Regions from separate parts of the Homo sapiens genome. Here region 1 is linked to region 2. Evidence: fine-mapped expression QTL. A gene starts in region 2. The other region holds a variant in brackets. All regions are shown on one strand. Distances are between the middles of the regions.

What was found.
Region 1: its variant is fine-mapped to the expression of LINC00511 in lung (GTEx, PIP 0.99).

The regions. Positions count from the first base shown.
Region 1 is chr17:72,332,212-72,335,119 of GRCh38, reverse strand. No RefSeq gene overlaps it. Among named protein-coding and RNA genes, the nearest start is that of LINC02003, 9.1 kb to the left of the region's middle. The variant G/A (reference allele first, on the strand shown) is at 1,082.
Region 2 is chr17:72,638,994-72,641,901 of GRCh38, reverse strand. It overlaps LINC00511 (long intergenic non-protein coding RNA 511), which reads left to right and starts at 1,430. Exons shown (of 5, transcript NR_033876.1): 1 at 1,430-1,531. It overlaps LOC105371887 (a long non-coding RNA gene), which reads right to left and starts at 1,227. Exons shown (of 4, transcript XR_934961.3): 1 at 1,184-1,227; 2 at 809-979.

The sequences.
Region 1 (2,908 bases), 310 kb after region 2:
GTGGTCAAACCAGTGAATAAGAAGTATGGGTTTAAGCTCTGGGATCAAATGGTGTCCTCTTCACTGATTGTTAGCTAAAATTAATAGATCTCTGGTAGAAAGAGGTCGCACGGGATGAACAGGCTTGTTAATGGAATAGAAGATGGCTGGTTCACCTGGGACAAGTGCTTTGGCTCCAGCTCTCTTCTGCTATTGGCTGGGCCCAGGCAGAAACAGCAACGCTGGCCCTCTAAACGCAGAGGCACAGCTCCCAGACACTCCATCTGCAATCCCTGTTGCCTGGTGAATGCCTTGCTTCCCTAAGCCTTTCAGGCCAAGGGTGTTCTTGGTGGGACAAAGGCCCTGAGGACCACCTCCCCAGCTCTACCCACTGGCCATCACCAAGTCCTCCAGCAGTGGGAAGAATCTGACCCATTCCACTTGAGCACATGGCTCTTATTTCCTTTGATGGAGGGATTAGAGGAGAGAAGACACAAAATAAATGAGAAGAGTATGGGGTGCATGCCCCTGGTAGGAAATGGGGCTGGGAATGAGGGTGATAAGAACGAGATGGAATCTACTATCAGTACCCCTGGGAAGCTGTCCGTGCCCTCTCTTTTCTCTGGCTCATCCCTACTGCATTCTTCCCAGCAGCTGTTTCGACTCTTCTCCTCCTTCCTCAGGCCTCCACATCCACCCCCATCATTCACAGAAGATGACTTCACCTCCAGCTCACTGAGAGGACTGAGCCATTGGTCTATACTGACTCCAAGTGGCCCACAAGTCTGGCTATGCCATTGGAAAGACCTGGATTTCAATCCACCTTCTGGCATTTTTACAGTGGTTTATGAGCAACTTAATTAACCTCTCTTGGGCTCAGTTTTCTCACATATAAAATGGGGCTGTTGTGAGGATTAAACAATGCAGAGAACTTGCATGTAAACAAAAAGTAAGGTTAACCATTCATTGTTACTACTAATGATGTTATAATACTACTACTATAGGCACCACCACCTGCAGCATTCACTCCCTCCAAGTGCAGCCTCGCTTCCTTCCAGAGTCCTACCTCTTGTCTAAGGATGGCCTCTCCACTGGAGCAGAA[G/A]CCATCTGTTCCTACCTTATTCCAAATGGTTATCTCTGGCAACTTCACACCCCCTCTTCTTGCCACTGTCTTCCTCTCGGTGTTCAAATATGTTCAACTTCCACATTTAACTTCCCAAATGCTTCCCTGCCCCCTCTTTTTTAAAAAAATTATTCCCTCAAACCACAGTCTCATCTCTTTCCTTCTTTTCACTAACAGATTTATCCAAAGAATCATCTGTACTTATTGACACCACTTCCTTACCTCCCACTCCCTCTTCAACCCACTGAATTTGCCTCTGCCCCACTGTTCTGGTGCAATGGAACTTTCAAAGGTCTTTCCCATTGTCCTCTTCCAACCTACTCACTCCTGCAGGAGCGTCTGGCTCTGTTGATCCTGGCAGTCATCCCCAAACCTTCTTCTCCACAGGTGTCCATGAGCCTGTTTCTCCCTGAATCTTCTTTTCTTTTGCACAAGTCTCAGTATCATCTCAGTGTACCCTCACTGTCATCTTTTTGACCCTCTCCCTGGGTGGTCTCACACCCTCCCTCTTCAGCCATGATTGTCCCCAGGATTCTGCCATCTGCCAAATCCACATCTCCAGCTCTGGCCTCTTCTGTGCTCCAGATTTTCATTGCCAGCTCCTTGCCCTCTTACACAAGAATGTCCTGCTCAGCCTGTCCAGTCCCCATATCTGATACTAAACTGTCAGTCATCTAGTGGGTCTGCTTATTTCTTTCTCCATCACTCGTCTGGTAATCAATCGGTCTTGTTGAATCTGCCTTCAAATTGGTACTTTGATCTAGTACTTTGCCTTCCCATGAGTTCTCTGCCTTTGGAAGTCCCTACCTCCTGCTTGGATAGTTGATATGGCCTCTGAATGGCTCTCTGGTCCAGCCTCCTTTTGCCCCTGGTTTCTGTGTCCCATGGACAGCAGGGTGATCTAAACTGAGAGTGATCATGTAATTCTTCATCTAAAGGAAAGTGCTTTTATGAGTGAATGGGGGTTCCATTGATAATTATGCCAGTGGATTATCCTGGGCAGACAGAGATGTGTGTTCACTGTGTTAAAATGATGTTCTGATTACGTAATTTCCTGGTCTGAGAATCTTATGCGCCCCTCCCCCATGATAACATGTAATCTTGCTCATATTTGTAATCTCAGTGATTTGGGAGGCTGAGGCAGGAGGATCGTTTGAGGCCAGGAGTTTGAGACCAGCCTGGGCAATATAGTGAGACCTCTGTCTCTATAAAAATAAAAAAGCTTATCCCGGCATGTTGGTACATACCTATACTCCTAGATACTCAGAAGGCTGAGGCAGGAGGATGGCTTGAGCCCAGGAGGTGGAGGCTGCAGTGAGCTATGGTTGCACCACTCCTGCCTGGGCGACAGAACGAGGCTCTGAGTCAAAACAAAACAAAACAAAAAAGAAACCATGCAATCTCAGCACTGCATCTGTGGCTCTGTCATGATCTGGCCTCCTTCAGTTCTTTAAGCCTCACTCATTCTGGGCTCTGTCTGCACCTGACTGTCCTTAATGCTTCATCATTTCCTGAAATGCTTGTCCCCTCCTGTCTTCAGCCTGTGCTCTCATGGTTCCCTCCCGGAAGCCCTGGCTGTTTCTCCATCCTTGTCCTTCAAGGCTCAGCTCAAATGCCACCTCCTCCCTGAAGCCTTTACTAATACTGGCTGTTTGGATGAATTTCTTCCTCTTTGTTCTGGCAGCACCTTTCACAATGTGCCCAATATTCTGAATTACCTGTGTACACAAATGTTTTCCCTGAAGACTCAGCACTTGGGGGACAGGGCTGGGTAACATCCTTCTCTGCAACTCTGAGAGCTATTAG
Region 2 (2,908 bases):
GATCTGCCTGCCTCTGCCTACCAAAGTGCCAGAATTACAGGCACGAGCCACGGTGACTGGCCGTTCTATTTTCTCAGTTGTATGGACTCAAGAGGGAAGAGGGTATTTCAGAACTGTCATAGGAAGCCCTTGGTTTGGTTTAAGTCTCTTCCTTCAGCTGGTAACTTCGGGACTTGAGCTTGCCAGTGTCTTTTTTTAAGCTGTGTGGCATGGCTTAACAGGACTGCCTGGCCGGCGCATCTGTAATCCCAGCACGTTGGGAGGCCGAGGCGGGCGGATCACGATGTCAGTGGATCGAGACCATCCTGGCCAACATGGTGAAACCCCGTCTCTACTAAAAATACAAAAATTAGCCGGCGTGGTGGCGTGCATCTGTAATCCCAGCTACTCGGGAGGCTGAGGCAGGAGAATCACTTTAACCCGGGAGGTGGAGGTTGCAGTGAGCCGAGATCACGCCACTGTACTCCAGCCTGGCGACAGAGTGAGACTCTGTCACAAAAAAAACAGGACTGCCTATTGGGCCTCATATGCTTGACTGTTTGATGGCAGAAACAACTCATTGGCTACAGGCTTTGCTTTGAATGGACCCTTCTTCCAGGTGACCGGTATGATGAGAAGTAGAGAGGTAGGGGCAGGTGTCAGCGTCTGGATCTTCTCTGGGATCCCAACAGAAGACATTTTCGTCCTGCTGTGCTGAAGACGGGACCGGAAGGCCATTGCTCAGGTATTCACTCTACCAGACGGGGCTTTACGCTCCCACCACTTCCTCGAATCCCCCGTGAGGTAGATATTATTATCCTGACTTTACCTGTGAGGACAGGAACGCAGTGGCGGGGTGGGTTCTCACTGTGCGTGGAGGCAGCAGGACGCAGAAATCGACCTCCCCCACGCGCCTCGCCAGCAGCTTTCAGTTTCGTGGCCCAACGCCCTGCACTGCACGCCTCTCCTCTGGGATAATTGATAGTTGAATCTGTGTAAGCTGGAAGCAAATGAGAGCCCAGCGGCTGTTCTTTCCCATTCCTTTTAGATTGAGGCAAAGGGACAAATCTGCGATGTGAATAATACAGCTCCAGGAATTTTTATCAGCGCGCCCCACGCCCGGCCCTGCCTGAGGGTCTTTCTAAGCCACAGGCGTCCCTTCCCAGGTCTTGTCTCTTCCCTTCCGCGAATGCCCTCGGCTCACCCAGCAGGCAGGTGTGATCCGGCTCCGCGCTGGGGCCAGGTGAGGCCGGGCTGCCTGCCCCGGTGCACGTTCCCAGGGCGCGGCGCCCAGTCGGCGGGGCCTGCGGGCTGGGCCTCCCCGGGGCGCCGGGCGTGGCGCCGGGGGCAGGTCCCCGGGCTGCCCTGCAGGGCGGCCGGCCGGCGGCCAGCGGCTGTTTACCTGTGCAGGGCGAGGCGAGACTCGTGGCGGTGCCGGGGCTTTGCACGCAAGGGGCGATGCGCCCCGGAGGGGGAGGGACGCAAGGGGCGACTACTGTTACCTCGCTTGGAGATACCAAGGCCGGTCGGACCCCCCGCTGGCCGAATGTGGGTAGGCTGCCCCCAGTTTGTCCCTTCCCAGGGTGGATCCAGATTTGGGGGCCGGAAGTGTATACAACGTGGGGAGCGCCCTTTGGGAAAAATAATACAGAAGTCCCAGTACAAGCTTAGGTGCAGGGCTTTTTTGGAAGGGGGCCTGTGAGTGAGGGTCCCCGAAGCCCAGGCTTCCTTGGCTTTTAGGTAACCTCACCTCTGAATCAGGGCAGGGAAGCCTGAGGTGCTCGGGGGTTTAGAGGCTTTCCAGACACTGCAGGAACCCTATTTAGTTAATTCACTTTTCCTTCATCTTCCACACACCCCAGCCCAGCACCTGGGAGAAGGGATGGCGCTGTGTTCAGAGGCAGGAGGAACCCAGCCCACAATTGTGCTTCTCTCTCCTGCCCTGGGAAGAACTAAACCCATCTTCCTCCTCCTTCCAGTAGAATGCGGGAGGCTGGGCCTGGCCATCCAGGGCTGAGCAAAACAGTAACCCTGAACCTACCTCTGGATTCTCTCCCGCTCTCTGACCTTCTAGCTCTCAACCCAGTGAAAGTGTCTGGACTCTGCCAGTGGCTTAATAGGGAAAGCGTCCTGGGGAGCCACCGTCTGTCCCCAGGGACTGTCACTGACCCCTCAGAGGTCCCCGATGGGGCTTCTGATGGAGCTGCTCGGACCCCAGACCTTCAAGAATCCTCAGGGTACGAGGCTACTGCCCTCTGCCCCAAGACAGGGAAGATGTGTGTGGGTGGAAGAGCTGGAAGTGTCAGAGGCATGTGAACCAGAACAACTCCATCTTAAATAGGAGCTGGGTAAAATGAGGCTGAAACTTACTGGACTGCCTATCCAGGCAGTTAAGGCATTCTAAGTCACAGGATGAGATAGGAGGTCAGCACAAAAATATGGGTCATAAAGACCTTGCTGATAAAACAGGTTGCAGTAAAGGAGCTGGCCAAAACCCACCAAAACTAAAATGGTCACGAGAGTGACCTCTGGTCATCCTCACTGCTACACTCCCACCAGCACCATGACAGTTTACAAATGCCACTGCAATGTCAGGAAGTTACCCTATATGGTCTAGAAAGGAGAGGCATGAATAATCCACCCCTTGTTTAGCATATCTTCAAGAAATAACCATAAAAATAGGCAACCAGCAGCCCTTGGGGCTGCTCTGTCTACAGAGTAGCCATTCTTTTATTCCTTTACTTTCTTAATAACCTTGCTTTCACTTTGCACTTTGGACTCACCTTGAATTCTTGCGGGAGATCCAAGAACCCTCTCTTGGGGACTGGATCAGGACCCTTTTCCTGTAACAGAAGAGCAACTGCTTTGTGTGGCCCAAGGAAAGATGTGTGATTCTTTGTAGAGGGTGAACCTATGGACCTGTATCCCA